2 separate regions of the Homo sapiens genome follow, and region 1 is linked to region 2. The links come from fine-mapping of genetic effects on gene expression. Tissue or cell type: coronary artery. Region 2 holds a variant in brackets; the other region holds the start of a gene. All regions are shown on one strand. Distances are from middle to middle.

Region 1 (8,580 bases), 810 kb before region 2:
CAGCTGTTTTCAAGATTTCAGTAAAAAGCCCTTTTTAAAAGAAGGGCAGGTAATTTTTATTTTATAACACAGGAAAATTATCTGTTGCTGTGTGAACAGCGCCCTCATGTGGCCATTCACAATGGTCAAATTCGCAACATTCAATTTAAAAATAACATTTAATAGATTATTAATAGGAATGCCCTAACTTATCTACTAGGATATCCTCCACGTCCATTATCATTCTATCGAATGAAAAGGGAAAACATGGAGTTTTAAAACGTCATAATGTAAATGTTAATTGTCGAAATAGTATTAATCAGTCTATAGTCTATACAACCTTTTCTCTCTCTGTCCTCTGCGGTAAACACTATCATACAAAATCTAATCTGATAATCTGGGAACAGCTGTCATCACATTATTTCTCTCCTCTTAAACGTGAAAAGTAATGATGATAAATTATGGCCACAATTTTAAAAGCACAAATAATAATTTATTACAGATGGAACATCATCTCCCAAATGCCCCACTTGCCTTTGCAGGGGCCACCATGTGAACTGCTCAGAAATTCCTTTGCAAAAACATGGGCATTCATGTGGATTAGTTAATTTTAAAACCATCATTTGAGAAAGGGCATAGATGGATAAATACATAGGGAAGACTTGTTGTTCAACATCACCATTGAGAACCAGGATTTAGGGCAGTCATTTCAATGTGACATGCCCTTTTGGGATACATAAAGTGGATCACTGTATTAGTATCTGTATCCAAAGGTGATATCAGTTAAAAAAAAAAAAAATCCAGAACCATAGTAATTGAGCTGGTTTCAGTCTTTTAATTTTTGAAAAATTATCTTATCAACTGTAATTTAAGGCTTACACATGGTAATAAAATACATTAACATTTTTGTTCCTAGCAGATTTCAATTATTAAATTGCTCCCTTTCCAACAACAACTCCAAAGCTCCTCTTTTCTTTTCTTTTCTTTTTTAATTTTAACCCTGGCTTTGGATAATAAAGTAGTCCTTGGTTATATTTACCTCTGTAAGTTGTTATCCAAAAATAACTTGAATATTTTTCAGCTTTAACCTTTAAGAAGTTATTTCTTAGAATAAATGACACTGCTTTTGTTTGTTTGTTTAGCCTTTGAGCTGATAAAAGTGATGCCAAGTTAATTTTAAAAGTCTTTAGGCTGCAGTCTCTTCCACTGTTCTGTAAACAGAGACAGACATACAGACATATAGATAGTTAAGAGTTTTCATGCCTTTGCCTGGGTCTTCTCTGAATCAAAGGATAAAACCCTCTTCCTTCCCATTGCATAACACACACCAACGCATGCACACCAAATCCAGTGACCGAAGTCCCTGAAGATAGATCTGCATTTTCCAGATTATAATTCAAATTCTATGTCTTGATATAGGCAAACACAGCCCCAACTCTAAATCTCTATATAGCAGCAGTTTAAAATAACATCAGAACTGCTGGGACCATCAAAACAGTGTTCTCTGTTTCAAGCAAATAGCTCAATGAATAATGCATTTTCTTCATGAGAAAATAAAGCCAATGAGCATTTAAAGGTTAAAAAAAAACAGAGAAAGTTGTAAGAAATTCTGGAAATAATTTCCTTTTTTTTTTTTTTTTTTTGGTGTTGCACTTTGCAGGCAATGCAGGTCTGCGCAGTGTTCTTCAGGATAGAGTGTAGGCGTTGAGAGCCAATGTGACAATAAGTGTCTAAATTAGGAATTCCATCCATGAAAGGGGACTTCATTTTATAATCAGGAACTCAAAAAGAGGTCGTATGTCTTTTCCTAATGAAATTGGTACTTTTGCTTTCATTTATTTGACAGTGCATGTCTGCAATGCCGTGCTCATCAATGATCAGAGAGTGAGGAAATAGCTCTGAATTCACTTTAATGCCTGCTCAAGAGAGCGCACTCAATATAATGCTCTTTATTTTTAATCAGTCTGGAGTACACAGTCTTATTTTGTTCTAAATAATAAAAAATAAATCATTACCCTCACCCCCCTTTGGACTGCAGGGCCCGTTCAAAAAGCCGTGTTTCCCTCTTAAAGAAGGGGTGGGGGCGGGGGCAAAGGCTGGCCACGGAGGTGTCAAGGATGTTTTATTTATTTATTTATTTATTTATTTATTTATTTATCTCTTGCTGAGAAGCAAACCAGCATTGAGTTTAGCTATTCTCAAAACTGATTTTCTGGGTGACACTTTAGTTTAGTCGAACATAGACGGCGCCATCACTCCACAGATTTTTCCCCCCAATAGAAGACCCACTGCCTTCTCTTAACTTCCTTTTAACCTAAAATTTTCCCCTCATAAAATTACCCCAATCACACAAAACTGCCAGATTTTCTAGGTCTCTCCGCTTATTCCTTCTGACCCAGCACATCTCTTGAAAACCAGACTTCTCTAACTTTTCAACTGCGGCGTTTAAGTAAATGCAGACAGTCGGATCTGCTCACAGCCTCCCCATCCGCCAGCAACAGCCTTTCCTTTCATTTTCCTCCCTTCTCAAACATTAAGCCCAAAGCTCCACGGTGGCGACCCCCGGCAGAGAAAAGGTGACCCCTGGACCCCCTTCCTTACCTTCCACTCCGAAAGCTCAGGGAGGCTCTTGCTCTAAGACACCAGCACAGGCACGCGTCCCAGCAACAGTGACGGAGAGACTCCCCTTCGGTCCCAATCACCGTTGCCCATTTTCCCCGGCTCAGCTTCCAAAATCAGGATTTATTTTTAAAAATGCATACATACGAAAAGCAAAAGGTGGGGGGTGGGAACCAAAGGGGGGTCGATGAGAGAGAGGAAAAAAAAGCCAGCAGGAGCCCAGAACCTTGCGCCGTATCCAACTGAATCCAACCTCCAAACCGAGGGGGGCTAAAGGGAGGGAGAAGCCCCCCCAAGGGAGACTCTAAGGAACCCCCCAAAATGTAAGTGGCTTAATAGCAAAGATTTGTTTCATAAAAGCTACCCCCAACAAACCAAGAAGCAAAGAAAGCGCTGAGACGAGAAGTGACCGGCGGCGGCGGCGGCTGCTATGGCAGATTTGTTGGGGCGGTGGGTTTATTACAGGAGTATTCGTGGTCGGATCGGAAGGCTCAAGCTTATGCTTTTTCCTCTTTCCGCTTTCCTCCCTCCTCCTCCTCCCCCCTGCAGGTACTGATGGACGGACGGCGACTAAGGAGAGCGGGGAAAAAAATCCTTGGCTGGTGATGTCGGAAAGCTGTTTGAATGCCCAGCGAGGAGGGAGGCGCGAGAGGGAGCGAGATAGTAAAGCTCTGTCTCGGGTGTGCGCGCCGGCGCGCAGTGCTCGCTCTCCCTTGGGCGCGCGCGCGGGGGGTGCGCGTGTCCCGGGAGCGCGTCCGCGCGGCGGCCTCCCGCGTGCTCGTGTGCGCGCGCGTCCCGGGTGCCGCGCGCCCTTCTTATGCACAGCTGCGGTGCGCCCCGCCGCCCGCCAGAGGCTCGGCTCGCGCGGCGCGGCCGCTGCGACTTCCTGGAGTTCTGCCTGCCGGGGGCGCGGGCGGGTGTGTGAGAGAGAAGGCGAAGGGAGCCGCGGGGTGGGAGAGGAGGGAGTCCCGGCGGGAGGGCGGGGGAGAGGCTGGCGGGAGGGGGGCTCCACGGAGCTCCAGCCAGGGCCGCGGTTCGCCTGCACGTCACGGCTACTCAAACCCAAGCACGTCCCGAAAGCGGTATTTTCTGCGTCTGGGAGGTTTTTGCATCCTCAGTTCCCACCGCTGGGGCTGGCGGCGACCAACTGTAAGAGAAACTCACTGGGAGGCGAGGCAGGGGGGTGCGGAGGATGGGAAGGCGACTCTGAAGGGTGGGAAGTGAATGCTGGACTTGATCGTCTTTCTCTTTCTTTCAGCGCAGACCTGTCGCAGCCAGAGAGCTGTCATTTCAGTACCGGGATTCAGAATTGATCCAGTCCGCAGCGGAGGGGGCACATCCCAGCTACCGAGCTGCTGAGTGTCTCTGGCTGGAACAATAGTATTTTTTTCTCTGCGAGGCTGCAATTAACATCTTATTTGTTCTGGCTCCATACAGGCTTTGTCAGGATCGCGGTGCGGCGACCGACGTTGGGCTCTTGCATTGCTTTGTGCTTGGCAATGGAATCATGGTTTCGGGGTCTAAACTTTTGTTTCGTTTTGTAGTCTTAATGTATCTGATTCTTTTTCAAGTTTCCCTAGTAACAGGTTTGGGGACGGGGTGGGAAGAAGCGAGAAAAGGGGTGAAGAGAAAAAACCAGATTATATAGAAAGGAAAAAGGGAAAAGGGATGTTTCCCCACCTTTTAATCTAACTATCTATCTGTCTGTCTATCTATCATCATAGATAGTCATTTTGCCTCCTGGACAGTTGGCTGACGAAGTGTCTGATAAACCAGCTTCAGATACATGCTACAAAAGGTCATTCGCCTCCTGATTATGTTTCTACTTGTAAACGCAGTTGGTGGTTTGCAAAACAAGTGCTAAAATAGTGCAGTGATGTGGTGGGAGGAAACCATAATGGGTAATTCATATAAAGTGCTGGAATCTTCGTAAGGGTGAGTTTCTCGAGCGGCAGGTGAAGTTGAATAAAGCAATTTTCCATCATTTGTTCCCCTCACTCTTGCATTTTTTTCCTCCGCTTGTTTCTCTCCCCTGGGGCGATTATGGATAGCCAAGAACACCATTTTAAAAGAGATTGATAGTGAAAACAGGAAGTTTATGGTCTGTTATCCACTGGAGTTGTTTGAAATATTAAAATTGGTCCTTTACTTCTTAATGCATATTAATAGAGTGACCCTCTTCAAGGCTTTCCCGTCTTAAACGAATGCCTGGGATAAACACTGTAAGGGGAAACAGTTAATAATTCCCCAGCAGGCTTTAACTATTTTCCCAGTAACAAATCACCGGCAAGAGAGCAGCCTGGGTGGCATTTTGGTTTTGTGTCATTTTGGTTCTTTACAATATTTTTTATTCATTTAAGGAAATGTTAAAAGGAAATAATTAGGGTTTATGTCCAGAACAAATTTTGAAACACCGTTTAAGCAACACATTTTCTTTTAAAAACAAAGAACATTGAGCAACACAAAGGAGAAAAACATTTTATTTATTTCAACTTCCCTAGAGATCGTAATTATGATTTTCGCAAGGCAATTTGGTCAGTTCTGTTACTTTATCCAGAGGAAAAAAAAGCATGACAGATGTGGAATAAAAACGGAGGAAAAAATGCTTTGGATGGTTTATACATAAAAAGGAAAGAATGTAATGTGAGGTTCAGTTATACCTCTATTTTGCATCTAGTGATTTCTCATATTATCTTGTAACACTGATTTTGATGTTTCTTAGAAATTCTTAAAGTCATGACACAGTGGCATAAGAATAACAGCTGAAAGGGACAATTTAAAAGCCTAAATCCTAAATGGAAAGGTTCACTTACTCCCAGGATCATTTATATTCAAGTAGAAGTCAGGGCAGGGTCAGAAAAGAAAGCCACCCTTAATAAAGCGCTTCACCCTTCACATTGTTTCTCATAACCTTCATAAATTGCAGGCTACTGAGCTGGCCTGATGATGATCCTTCTGAGATATATTTATAGCAGATGATTTGTGGATGATAACTACGCCAAGCAAGACACTGTCTCCAGTAACCCCAGGCTCGTCTGACTTCCTCAGGGGATTATAATAAAGAATCACAAAAAGAACCCTATATGGACAGTCTGGTCTCTGGACACTAACAACAGCACAATCCAAAGGCAAAGAAAGGAGGAACCACCTTGTTTCATGTCTGCAAGCTGCTCCATATGAAAGCATTGCTGACATGTTGACCCAACAGCAAAAAGAGAGCAGCAGTTTACACACCCTCAGCTCTCTGTCCTTTCCTTTCTATTGATGTTGGTCCACTTTTATGACTGAATACATATTAAAATCACCATTTCAAATTATAATTATCTGCTTTCATTGGTCTCTTTCACAAGTCTATGTCTATATTTATGTTTACATATATAAACACATATACACATATTTTATACATACATATGTATATGTATGCACGCATTATTTGTAAGTACACATACACGTGTGTGTATATATATGTATATGATATGTATATGTGTATTTCAGTTGATACACATATATTTGCTTGGGAAGTTTCACTACATTGCTTTGTATTTCTCTTTTATAAGGTAATGCATTTAATTCCAAAACTACCACATTAATTGTATAAATTGATTATTACATAAGTTTCCTTGATGATTTACAGAAGAACTATTGAGAGGTCAGTGTTAGCACATCAAAATATAGTCTGGTATGGCATTTTAAATTGACCCAGGTATCTAATATTAAAGCCTTTCAAATTTATCTCTCCTGCTATTATTTTATTAAGATTACTTTGGAATGATGAGGTTATAAGTGTGATTTATTTCTGTTTCATCTTTTTGTCTGTATGTGCTAAGTTTAGTCCCTCCACTTTGAGAATAACCCTATAATCCAGGATCATTGCTTAAAATTCAGTATCATTTGCAGAATTCTCATACTCAAATAAGAATGTTTCTAGAATATGTTTACTCAATTTTAGAAAGTATTTTCTCTTTCCTTCTTTCTGTCATAGTTTTTCTGATATTACTGTATTACCACATTCTAAACTCTGTGACTTGTTATTTTCAGTAAGGCTTTAAGAAGCATGGATAGGTTTGTAGGTTATTTCTTGTTAAATATGCCTTAATTTTTTAGTATTTAGTATTAGTATTTAGTTTTTAGTATTTAGTATTTAGTATCTCCCATATATATATATGCACACATATATATATACACATATATATGTACACACATACATATATACACACACATATATATACACACACATACACAAAGCTTTGGAATGTTAATTAAATGATCAAAATATTACAAGATTACATTGTTATGAGAACTTATCCTTAATATTAGCATATTTACTATAAAGTTAAACAACTTCTTCTCCTCTGTCTCCTGTTTATTATCATTATTTTATTATTATTAAAAAAGGAAGTCTCTCAGAAACCAAGCTGTATATCCTCTAGTCTCTATGTAAAAAAACAAATTGGTCATTTTCTACTTGGACATCCCAGAATAGAAAGTACATTGAAGTACTAAAAAATAAAGGGATAGACTTGGGGTTAAGGGAGATGTCATAGAACAGCTATCCTGGGTTAGTTCAAGTGTAGTCCTATTCCATGCTAGGCAAAGTCAAGGTTACAAAAATCCCAGTTGCATCAGGTTTCCATTTTTTATCATTATTTCCCTATACAACGATACAAGTTAAAAAAAAGTCGGTAAATACTTTTGGCCATCAATTTTCAAGATTTCATTGGTGATATTAAGGAAATGCTGTAAGTAGGTAACACATAATGTCATATTTGTGTGCTGTAGAAGTATCTTGGAAAATATGGACTTTAAAACCTCAAAATATGGGTTTGCAATCGAACATACATTCACCCCCAAATTTGACCTTTTTCAGCTAGTTATTTTCTCATATAAAGTTACTATACTTACACCATTATCTTTAATCCCTGAAATTTCAATTATACTAGAAATCAAGATTCTTCATTTTTACTCACGAAACTGACACTAAGTATATACCTCATTAAGGACAAGAAGCTATGAATTCTCTGGACTTCAGTTATCTCACAGAAAAGAGCTTGATTGAATAATGTCTAAGGCTCTTCCTGACATAGTCTAAATAACAGAAGGTGTCTCACAAGAAATGGAAGCAGTGAGAGAAAAATGCAATTAAATCCTAGACTAGAAAGAATCACAATTTTCCCACTCACAGGTTGGAAATGCCTCTCTATTCTATCACAATTTTGAAAACCTCCATAGTTTTACTAGCTTTGCCTTTCTCCCTTGCTATCATCTTCTGAGGTACAGACAGTCCTTTCCATTTTTATTCCTCTCCCACTCTGATAATTTTTTTCTTTGACAGAAGTCCCACTTTATCATTAATGATGACAATAACTAAGGCTGCCAGGAACAGCACATCTGCTGAGCTTTATCAACACCAGGTATTGAAGTCTATGGACTACCTATTATTTCTGAACATTTATTCATGTTCAGTCCTGTTTCTACCAATTCTGATCCACTTATCTCTACCATTTCTCTTCCTGGCAGATTCTCTCATTTTGCCTTCTGGATCTCCATGCTTTTTTATACCAACAAACAAGAGGAAGAATATTCTCTACCCACTTCCTTGACTGAAGCCTGCTCTTTTATGAAGACATGGCATCTCTTCCAACCGTGTCAAACAGATGCAATTTATATGTCTGCTGCTTCCATACCCTGATTAAATGGGTCAGTGGCAGAATCAGTATCCTTAGTCTCCCCTTTGGTTTCAAATATGTACTCCTTATTTCAGTTTCATGCTCACCTTTCTGTAGAGACCAAGGCATCTGCCTTTGCAGCTTTACCTCTTCCTCCAGGTTATAGTTTCCATTCATGGAATCTTTTAGCTGCTGGCTGGCAGTTTTCCTGTCTACCTGACTTCCATTCCTCTTCTCATGACTTCAGCTCCCATGCAGATGTCTTATCCTGACATACTAGCTTCTCCATTCTATTTCTGTGTGTGTGTGTCTGTGT
Region 2 (10,718 bases):
TCTACAAAATAGATTATACAAATACTCCATAAATTACTGGGAGGTAAATGAGACAAACAGGGGTTTATTTCAAGTAAAATCTAATTGTAAAATTTTAAGAAGTTTTTTTTTATATAATCCATTCAGTTATACCACTAATATTTGTTGAATGACAATTAAAACCATGCATTGTTCTTTCACCTAAGTACTCTTATAGCCCAATGGGGGAGGTAGGCATTAAATAATTAATTACACAAACATGTCAGTTGCACCAGAAGATTGTTCGATGCAATTTATTAAATTGTTACCAGGGCATGGAAGAAGGGAGATGGTGAGGAATAGATACTGGATTTATCTTATAGATGATGAGACTATTACAAAATTAGATACTAGTCATGGTTGCACAATTCTGCATATGCTAAAAATCCTTGAATTGTACACTTTAGTGAAGTCAATTTTATGTCAATTATACCTCAAAATAGTAAGTATTTTTTAAAATATGCCTCTTTGTGCCTCAAAGTCCTCCCTCCAGTGACATTTCTAAAGCTTAGAAGAATATTTAACGTCATTTCTATGGCCTCTTTGGACCCCAATTTTAAGGAAATATTTCTCCATCCTCAGCTGCTACCATTCTGTGCTTTATTAACTGTGTTCAATTACAGACCACCTTGCTGTTCTAAATTGCCACACTTATTCTTGCCTAGTGCCTTCACCCTTGCTATTCCTCTTCCTGGGAAGTTAGTAACCTGAATAATTTGATAGTTCACTCTCTTTTTTACATTGAAATCTCTGTTTGAATACAAAATATTTAGAGATGCTGTTTTTGAATGCAGTATGTGAAATAGCTCATTTCCTCCACCTCCTTCAACCATCCACTTATTTATATTTATTTTTATAAGCTTTAATACTTCTTATTGTACATATAATGACTTATTATTTATGTTTTTAGTATTCTATTTAATGAGACAAAACTTTTGTTTTATTTACTTACATAATTTAGGAATTTTTCCTGAGTTAAATAGAAAAATGTAGGAGTGAATTAAATATGCTGAGTTTGTTGTACATGCCAATTAACACTTGTCTTAGTTTTGTCATCTGCAAGATGTGAATAATAATATATTAGAGTAAGAGAATAATAATATTCTATTTTGGGAATATTTAATGGTTGAATGAAATAATGTGTGCAAAATATCTGGCATGTACTCTGCTTAGCTATCTTAGAAGACAGACATCCAAAGCTAACTTTTACTTCATAGAAATTATAGAGCTTCTGCATTTTATCACAGCTTCATGGACACAATCACATAGAAGCACTAATAATTTTACCCTATTTTAAAAACATCTGTACTTAAATTCCAAGAAATGAAAGAAAAAAAAAAGAGAGAAGGAAAGTAAGAAGCAAAACATTCAAGGTTTAAATGTAAGATACTTTTAGATCTTAAAAGTGGATATTGTTAGTGATTTCTTGAATTGCTTCACTTAATGTCACAAAAGTCTCTGGAGTAATTGGATTACTTGTCCCACAGCACTTGCTAAAGGAAAGAATTATTCAGGCCTGCTGATTTATCCACAGAAATAATCTGCAGAATGAAGACTTGAGTGCTGAACCAATTTTATGCTGTCAACATCTAAAAGAGTGTTGCCCAAAGGAGAGCCTAAAAGCTGAGGATCTGAACATTCTGCAGGTTTTCTTGCTTTTATTAATATAATAGGAATGATACTGTGCTACATCTTCTTCCCAATAACATATATATATATATATATGTTTTATATATATATGATATATATGTGTGTGTTATATATGTGTGTTATAATGTTTATGTGTTATATATATGTGTGTGTGTATATGTATACATATACACACACACATACACAACCTTGAATAAAAGTACCAAGTTGTTGAACATAGAACATGTACTTAAGTATCTGAACTGTCCAATCATTTATTCAGACAAGAATCATGTAATGCATGCCAATGTTTTCATGGGTATGCTTGCCCTGGGGACTATAGTAAAAAATAAAACAAAGACACCGTATGTCTTCATGGAGATTACAGTGTCATGGTGGATACAGGCATTAAACAAACTAGCAAAAATATACAAAATAAATATTTTCATTTTAAAAGAGTTATGGGTTAGGAGGAAAAAACAGCAACATCTAGATTCCAAGTAGAGAAAAATGGAGGGATAATTTAATTTGGACTGGAATTAAGACAGAATTCCTTAAGCGAATGACTTGGGTAAAAGACTGCTAATTTAGTCAGAAGCAGTCAGGAAGCCTGAGGGAGTTATAGGTTAAAACCATAACCAAAAAGTGATATGTACACATTCCTGCGAGAAGAGATACCTGAGACTATTTCAAAAAAGAAATATAGTGTCTGGGAAACAGAAATGAAGGAGGCACATTTTTTAAGGTGGGGCTAAAAGAGTAGGCAAGGAACAGAACTTGCAAGAACTTTTAGTTTATTTTTATTTTTTAAAATGCATTGTTAAAGGGCTTTAAAAAGAAATAATGCCAGTTTTAAAAATTAGTTTTATGGAGGCAGGGGACTATCTCAATCAGTTTTTTTTTTTGTTGTTTTAAAGATTACAAGTGTTTTTTTTTTAGGAGGCTATTGCTTCATTTTAAGTAAGAGGTGAGTTGGTTTGGACTGGGATATTAGGGCAGTAGTAATGGATAGACATGAATAGATTGGATTTTTTTTGGAGGTTTAATTGGCAAAATGTGAAGGAAGAGGAAAAGTGAGTCAAAAAACGACCAGTGCAATTATTTATTAAGAAATGTCTATGATGAAGGCCCTTGTGATACCTGTGACACAACCCCAAGTCATAAACACAGTCCCAACCTTTCATCTAGATCAAGAATGAATAACATTTTTTGTAGTTTTCTCACAGACATAACTAATAATAATAACACTATCTAACTTTATTGATTATATACATGCCCTACTCGGGACTACATATGCTTCTTACATATTATTTCATTATATCTTTAGAAGAATAATATGGAATAAAAATCATTATTTTCTTGATGTTATAATGGAGACTAAGGCTTTAGAAAGGTCATTTGACAGAACTTTCACTCTAATCCATATTTGTCTCATTTATAAGCCATTGTGGCCCTAGTTGTCAAACCTAAATTAACATGGGCATTCTCTAAAGTCCTGGTTAAAATACACATTCTGAGGTCTGAAAGCAAGTTTTTTGATTCTGTAGATATATGGTTTGGCCTAGGATTCTATAGTTTTAATATCCACATAAAAAAGCTGGTGAGAATCACACTTTCATAAAGGCTGACACAACTCTAACAGATTTTCTTCGAGCATGTGGGTGTTGAGGTAAAAAGAACTGCAATTCTACCCTCCTGTAACACTCCAAATATGATTTGGAACGTTTTCTACTTTCTACCTTGTTGGAGTATTACAGGAAACTACTCAGCCTTTAAAGCTTGCATTCTTAATACTGTAATCTGAGGAAGTATATCAGTGGCCAAGCACAAGGGAAGCCAATATGGTGGTAAAAGTTTCAGTATTCAGTTTTACTTTCATTGATTTTCCTAGAAAATATCTTGTCTCCTGAGATAAACCTAGTTTAAAAGCAATGGAAAGAAGACAAGTTGGATTCCAGCACTGCGTTAGAAAGAATATCTATCAAATAATCAATAGCTTCATGGAGTAAATATGGAATATAAATTCCATCTTGCAATACTATTGCCAGCACATTCTTTGCTTTAATACTCTCCCTAATTCTCACATCGTAGGCTCTCTTTACTGTAAGTTGTGATAGAATCTATTCTGATTGTGGTAGATACTCATGTCAACTACTTCTCAGTTAGATGAAGCTTTCCATTTATTTGATATACAGGTAATAAAAATTGTTGCTAGTAATAATAAATGATGCATAAAGTGTTCTTTCTCTGAAAACTATAATCAATAACATTCCAAAATATTGCACTCTAATATGACAAGCCTGTTCTTAGCTTGTGCCACTCCATCATATTTAAATCTATAAACTCCACTTATTATTTCAACTACTAACATTTATTCCAGAAATGGTAGTAGAGGACAAAAAAATGACAGTTTAGCGTTCACAAGGATATTAATGCTTACAACAGCATTTTGAATGTATAAATTTGTTCAAACTTATTCATGTATTTTTTTCTACTGTATATTATTTGACAATTATCAAATTAAAATCCTGATAGAATAACTCTACTAAAATTACAGAAATAATAATTCATATACTATTAGTACTACTAATACATGTATTATCACAGCCTTTAATTATATTAATGAGAATAAAATGAAAATACTAAACAAAAATTTATAAAAATATGTAATTAAATACATATTTTTAAACACTGTTCACTTCAACATATAGCTGAAAAATGAAAAGATGTAATTGGGCCACTGAGCTGCTGTTAAGCAGATACTATTCTATTTGAAAGGCTAAAATGACTTTAATACAGAGCTGTTTTTGAGGAGTACAGGACAACTTTTATAAAGACAGTCACTACAGGGGTTAAGAACACAGACTATGGAGTAAAATCCAGATTCAAATTCTTAA[T/C]ATTCTGTTCACCAGTGGGGAGTATTTGGAACATTTATTTAACCTTTCTGAACTTTGGTTTTCTTGTTCTACAACTGGAAAAAATTTCCCATTGGTTTTAAGTTCCAAAAGTTATGAGAAATAATAAAAATGTTTTTTTAGCAGAATATTTTACATACTGCATTTATTACCAATTAGATAGGGAGTATGACTTTCAGCTTCTCAAGTGAGAGTAAGTTAGTTTAAAATCTTGTTCTGTACATACCCCATTTGAGACAATTGAGGTCATAGAAAGCTCCCTGAACCTCATTTTGTCCTCTATAAAATGGGGCCAATGATAGTATCAATGTGTTTTGAGAAGTTGCTGCATGGAACAGGAATGGTGTTACTGCTATTGCTAACAAAGCATTTTTTGAGAAGACAAATTTATGATTACTGCACAGTTTTCCACATGCATATTTTTTGTTTAATATGTTGCCTAGGCAAAGTTTTAATTCCAGTTAAGTCTCCATTGAGAAATAAGTATAACTTGGACATACTCATTACTGCACAAGTGTAGGTTTGTGTCTGGAATTGGTGGGTTCTTGGTCTCACTGACTTCAAGAATGAAGCCGTGGATCCTCGCGGTGAGTGTTACAGCTCTTAAGGCAGCACGTCTGGAGTTGTTCGTTCTGATACTCAGATGTGTTTGGACTTTCCTCCTTCTGGTGGGTTCGTGATCTCACTGGCCTCAGGAGAGAAGCTGCAGACCTTCGCGGTGAGTGTTACAGCTCATAAAAGCAGTGCAGACCCAAAGAGTGAGCAGCAGCAAGATTTATTGCAAAGAGTGAAAGAGCAAAGCTTCCACAGTGTGGAAAGGCGACCCCAGTGGGTTGCCACTGCTGGCTGGGGCAGCCTGCTTTTATTCCCTTATCTGGCCCCACCAACATCCTGCTGAGCTGATTGGTCTGTTTTACAGAGAGCTGACTGGCCCATTTTGACAGGGGGCTGATTGGTGTTTTTACAATCCCTGAGCTAGACACAAAAGTTCTCCAAGTCCCCACTAGATTAGCTAGACACAGAGCACTGATTGGTGCATTCACAAACCTTGAGCTAGACACAGGGCACTGATTGGTGTGTTCACAAACCTTGAGCTAGACACAGAGTGCTGATTGGTGCATTTACAATCCTTAGCTAGACATAAAGGTTCTTGAAGTCCCCACCAGATTAGCTAGATACAGAATGCTGATTGGTACATTTACAAACCTTGAGCTAGACACAGAGTGCTGATTGATGCATTTACAATCCCTTAGCTAGACATAAATGTTCTCCAAGTCCCCACCAGATTAGCTAGATACAGAGTGCTGACTGGTGCATTCACAAACTCTGAGCTAGACACAGAGCACTGATTGGTGTATTTACAATCCTCTAGCTAGACATAAAAGTTCTCCAAGTCCCCACCAGACTCAGGAGCCCAGCTGGCTTCACCTAGTGGATCCTGCACCAGGGCCACAGGTGAAGCTACCCGCCAGTCCCTTGCTGTGCACCCGCACTCGGCCCTTCGGCAGTCGATGGGACCAGGTGCTGCAGAGCAGGGGGCGGCGCTTGTCGGTGAAGCTCGGGCCACCGTGCAGGAGCCCACCTTGTGGGGGAGCCACGGTGGGCTGCAGGTCCCAAGCCCTGCCCCGTGGGGAGGCAGCTGAGGCCCACCAAGAATTCCAGTGCAGCACCTGCGGGCTGGCACTGCTGGGAGACTTGGCGCACCCTCCACAGCTGTTGGCCCGGGTGCTAAGCCCCTCACTGCCCGGGGCTAGCAGCACTGGCCAGCAGCTCTGAGTACGGCCCGCCGAGCCCACATCCACCCGGAACTCGCACTGGCACGCGAGCACCGCACACAGCCCCAGTTCCTGCCCGCGCCTCTCCCTCCACACCTCCCCACAAGCTGAGGGAGCCAGCTCCGGCCTCGGCCAGCACAGAGAGGGGCTCCCACAGTGCAGCCGCAGGCTGAAAGGCCCCTCAAGCACTGCCAGATTGGGTGCCGAGGCCGAGGAGGCGCCGAGAGCGAGAGAGGGCTGCGAGGGCTGCAGGCACGCTGTCACCTCTCAGGTTTACTTGGGGAATCTGAAATAAAAAGGTTGGAAAGTTAACTTTACTAAGAACAAAATGATATAATGCATTCCAAGAGTAAATTTTAATGCCTTTTAGAATGTCCTTGATGTTATTTCTTTCTTTACATGTGACTAAATTTATTAATAATTATTAAGTAAATCCTTAGGTATTATGTGAAAGCTTAATGCACTAAATTTATTATATTTCTACATATTCATAAACATTTTGGAAGATGGCTACCCAGCATGTAATTTTCAAGGCAGGCCTATAATACATATCAGTCAAAATGGGCAAGGGGATTGCAAACCATAATGTCTACAATTGAAAGGAGTACATTTCAAGATAGCTTTCGTTTTATGCAACTAGGACCTGAAATAAATATTGCCAGTGGGGATGTAAAGAACACTGTAGATTACCATCACTTTTCCTATCTAAAACACACATAATATTGGTAAAAATTCTGGCCTAGAAGATAAAATCATTATAAAACATTAGGAATATTGTTATCAGATGTTATAAACAAAATAAGGAGTCATACACACTCAGAAGTAATACTATAGATTATTTATATCACAAGTTTGTATAACATATTTAGAAATTATCAATAGTCTTTGAGAGACTCAATGTAAAACCTCCTGCAATATGAAGTATGCATTTATGAATGGTGAATGACATTTTATTTAATGCAACCCACAAAACTAAATGCAACTATATCTTGAGCTTTTATACAACTTGGCACAACTTCAAGCCAGGGAGAGCACTAGTCGTTGATGATGCTCATTCTTCTACAGTTTAGAAAAGATGCAAAAAATAAACTCAAACGATTTTAAAGAGGGCTAGACTTGTAAAAACACTTTTATTACGAGAGAAAAGGTCACTGATTTTCTAAACAGAGACTTTGCACTACATAAAAGAGAATTCATTTTATTAAATGAATGATGAGCCAAGAAGGTCACAGTAGCTTGAAAAGAACAATAGCAGGTCATGAGCTTATAAATCTTTGAAGAACTTTCTTTCATTTAAGAGGCTCAGGATTATTATTCGATTTGGTAAAGTGCAAGAAACAATAGGAGGTCATTCACACTGTTGCAAGGTATCAATTAACACTTTACAAATATTGAGTGTAAATTTTACCTAGATTTGACAGTGTGTAAAAAAAAAGGACAAAGTATATAATTTACATGGTTTTGCAAAACACAGCACAGAAGCAGGGGATTGATGCATGTGTAATTCTTCAATAATGTAGGTTATTTCAATTAATGTAAAAACAATCAATTTAACTTTCACACTGCTTATTTGATCATTCTTTATATTTTTATTCATTTTCTAATTAGCTTCCCCATTACTTAAACTAATCAAGTTTCAAAAGAACAAAGGAAGATAATTATTAATATTTCCAGTGATATTCATTTGTTTTTCTCTCAATGTCAGATTGTACATCCAGAGTAGGAAATTAACATTTCAAAGTATCTCTGTGCTCTGTGATATTTCTTATCAAATTCCAGGGAGAGTGGGGGTTTTATACACACACTCATATATATATGCAAACAAGTATTTTATATACATATAAAGTATGCACACACATACATATCACAAATAGCATATCCCATTTAGTTATTTGTCAATAAATTTTACTTTATCAAATACACAATAAAATTTTTGTAAAATATGGGATGGAGATTTTTGCACTTTTATATCTGTAATGTGCAGCCTGACATTTTGAACACACTATATACCAAAAAAATCTGTAAATTAGTCAGTAGGAATGAATCCGTAAAATACTTCTTAGCTTTGAGCAGAGTAATTGCTTTTGTTTCTATCAATTGTATAACAAATTAATTTCCATTTTAACTGTGACATGTAATGAGCATGGAAGACAACATTTTTGACCTTAAAATAAATAAACAACAAAAAAACTTGAACCCTGAAAATCATTGACTTTTTTGGATCTATTAGAGAAGCGAGCTTGCAGGGCAAACTGGCACCCAGAATCTGAAAAGATACGGAAATTCTTACACAGTTCCGGTAGAGATCTGTTTATTTGGAGCAAAGCAGCAGAAGCATAATGCGGAAGAAACACGTAAGTCATAATTGGATGAATTGCTGGAAGTTTCAAGTAGCCTAGCATGAGCGCAAAACTACCGAAGGCAACAGTCTTGGTATAGCCCAATACTTTTGCAGACTTAACATCCAAAACCTCTACCAGATTCACCTTATAAAGATCCAAAAATGATCCCTCTTTGTCTCTGGCAGTAGAAGGGGAAGGATAATCATTCCAAAAAACTTGCAGAACATTTTCCAAAAGAAAGGCCATTTTTCATGGAGAGAGACCTCACCAGAGCCTCTTCTCAGCTTCATCCCCTCCTAGCCTTCTGTTTTATCTAAGAGAGGAGGGGAAAGCTGTACCATCAGAGAACACCAGATTTTGAAGTTCCAAAGACATAGGCTCACTAAAGATTGAGAAGTAATAATATGGTGGAAAAATATATTTCTTCCCTCCCAATTTACCACTAATAAAACAGGGCTCCACTAAAGTAACAGTGCATTACTGCTGGAAGATTGGAAACATGCAGATTTTGTGAGAAGTATTTATGGGATTCTAAAGTCAAGTGGGGAGGCAAAATAAGTACGTAAGAGGAATTTGAATTCACTGATGCTTACAAGTATAGTAAACAATAAACACAGACAAACCCCTACTCACATTGTGTCCAGAATTGGTGGGTTCTTGGTCTTGCTGACTTCAAGAATGAAGCCGCACACCCTCCCCGTGAGTGTTACAGTTCTTAAATATAGTGTGTCCAGAGTTTGTTCCTTCTGATGTTCAGATGTGTCCTGAGTTTCTTCCTTCTGGTGGGTTCGTGGTCTTGCTGACTTCAGGAGTGAAGCCGCAGACCTTCGCAGTGAGTGTTACAGCTCTTAAGGGTGGCACGTCCGGAGTTGTTCCTTCTTGCTGGTGAGTTCGTGGTCTCGCTGGCTTCAGGAATGAAGCTGCAGACCTTCGTGGTGAGTGTTACAGCTCATAAAGGTACTGCATACACAGAGTAAGCAGCAACAAGATTTATTGCAAACAGGGAAAGAACAAAGCTTCCACAGGATGCAAGGGGACCTGAGCAGGATGCCACTGCTGGCTTGGGTGGCCTGCTTTTATTTGCTTATCTGGCCCCACCCACATCCTGCTGATTGGTCCATTTTACAGAGTGCTGATTGGTCCATTTTACAGAGTGCTGATTGGTCCATTTTACAGAATGCTTATTGGTGCATTTACAATCCCTTAGCTAGACACAGAGTGCTGATTGGTGCATTTACAATCCTTTAGCTAGACACAAAAGTTCTCCAAGCCCCACCTGATTAGCTAGACGCAGAGTGCTGATTGGTGCGTTTACAAACCTTTAGCTAGACACAGAGTGCTGATTGGTGCATCTACAATCCTTTAGCTAGACAGAAAAGTTCTCCAAGTCCCCACCCGACCCAGAAGCCCAGCCAGCTTCACGTCTCAACATCATCATAAATCTTCACACAAAAGGTTTACTTACTTCAGGCCCTATTACCCAACACATGCTTGGCTTGCAACAAAAAGTTAGAAGGCATTCTAAAAGGCAAGAGAAAACACAGTCTAAAGAAGAAAAACAAGTATCAGAATTATACTCAGATATGACAAAGACATTGAAAATATTAGGTGGGGAGTTTAAAATAATGATTTATATGTGAAGGGTTCTAAAGGAAAAAGTAGGCAACATGCAAGAACAGATGGGTAATGCAAGCAGAGAGAGAGAAACTAAGAATCATAAGGCAGTGCCATAAATCAAAAACACCATAACAGGAATGAAGAGTCCTTATGGTAGATTCATCAGTGGACTGGACATGGTTTAGGAAAGGATGAATCAGCTTGAATATAGGTCAATAAGAATGTCCCAAACTGAATATTGCAAAGAGGCTAAAGAAAGGAAAAAGACAAAAACGCAGAATAGTCAAGAATAGTGAGGCAATCACAAAAAGTGTAACATGTGCATAATAGGAATAAAGGAGAAAGAACAGAATACATACTTGAAGTAATAATGGCTGAGAACAATGCAAAAGTAATCCCTAACTAATTACAGGTGCAAAAAT

The links. PIP is the estimated chance that this variant, and not a neighbour inherited with it, causes the effect.
Region 1: ADGRB3-DT starts here. The variant in region 2 is fine-mapped to the expression of ADGRB3-DT in coronary artery (GTEx, PIP 0.96).

What each region holds. Positions count from the first base shown.
Region 1 is chr6:68,630,001-68,638,580 of GRCh38, reverse strand. It overlaps ADGRB3-DT (ADGRB3 divergent transcript), which reads left to right and starts at 4,257. Exons shown (of 2, transcript NR_125872.1): 1 at 4,257-4,396; 2 at 5,525-5,918. It overlaps ADGRB3 (adhesion G protein-coupled receptor B3), which reads right to left and starts at 3,299. Exons shown (of 32, transcript NM_001704.3): 1 at 2,581-3,299; 2 at 1,019-1,190. LOC127898563 reads right to left here and starts at 2,691. Exons shown (of 1, transcript NM_001414704.1): 1 at 2,614-2,691. The coding sequence starts at 2,691. The coding sequence ends at 2,614. RefSeq lists a silencer at 3,351-3,560.
Region 2 is chr6:67,821,110-67,831,827 of GRCh38, reverse strand. No RefSeq gene overlaps it. Among named protein-coding and RNA genes, the nearest start is that of LINC02549, 500 kb to the left of the region's middle. RefSeq lists enhancers at 5,558-5,852, 8,925-10,124. The variant T/C (reference allele first, on the strand shown) is at 4,545.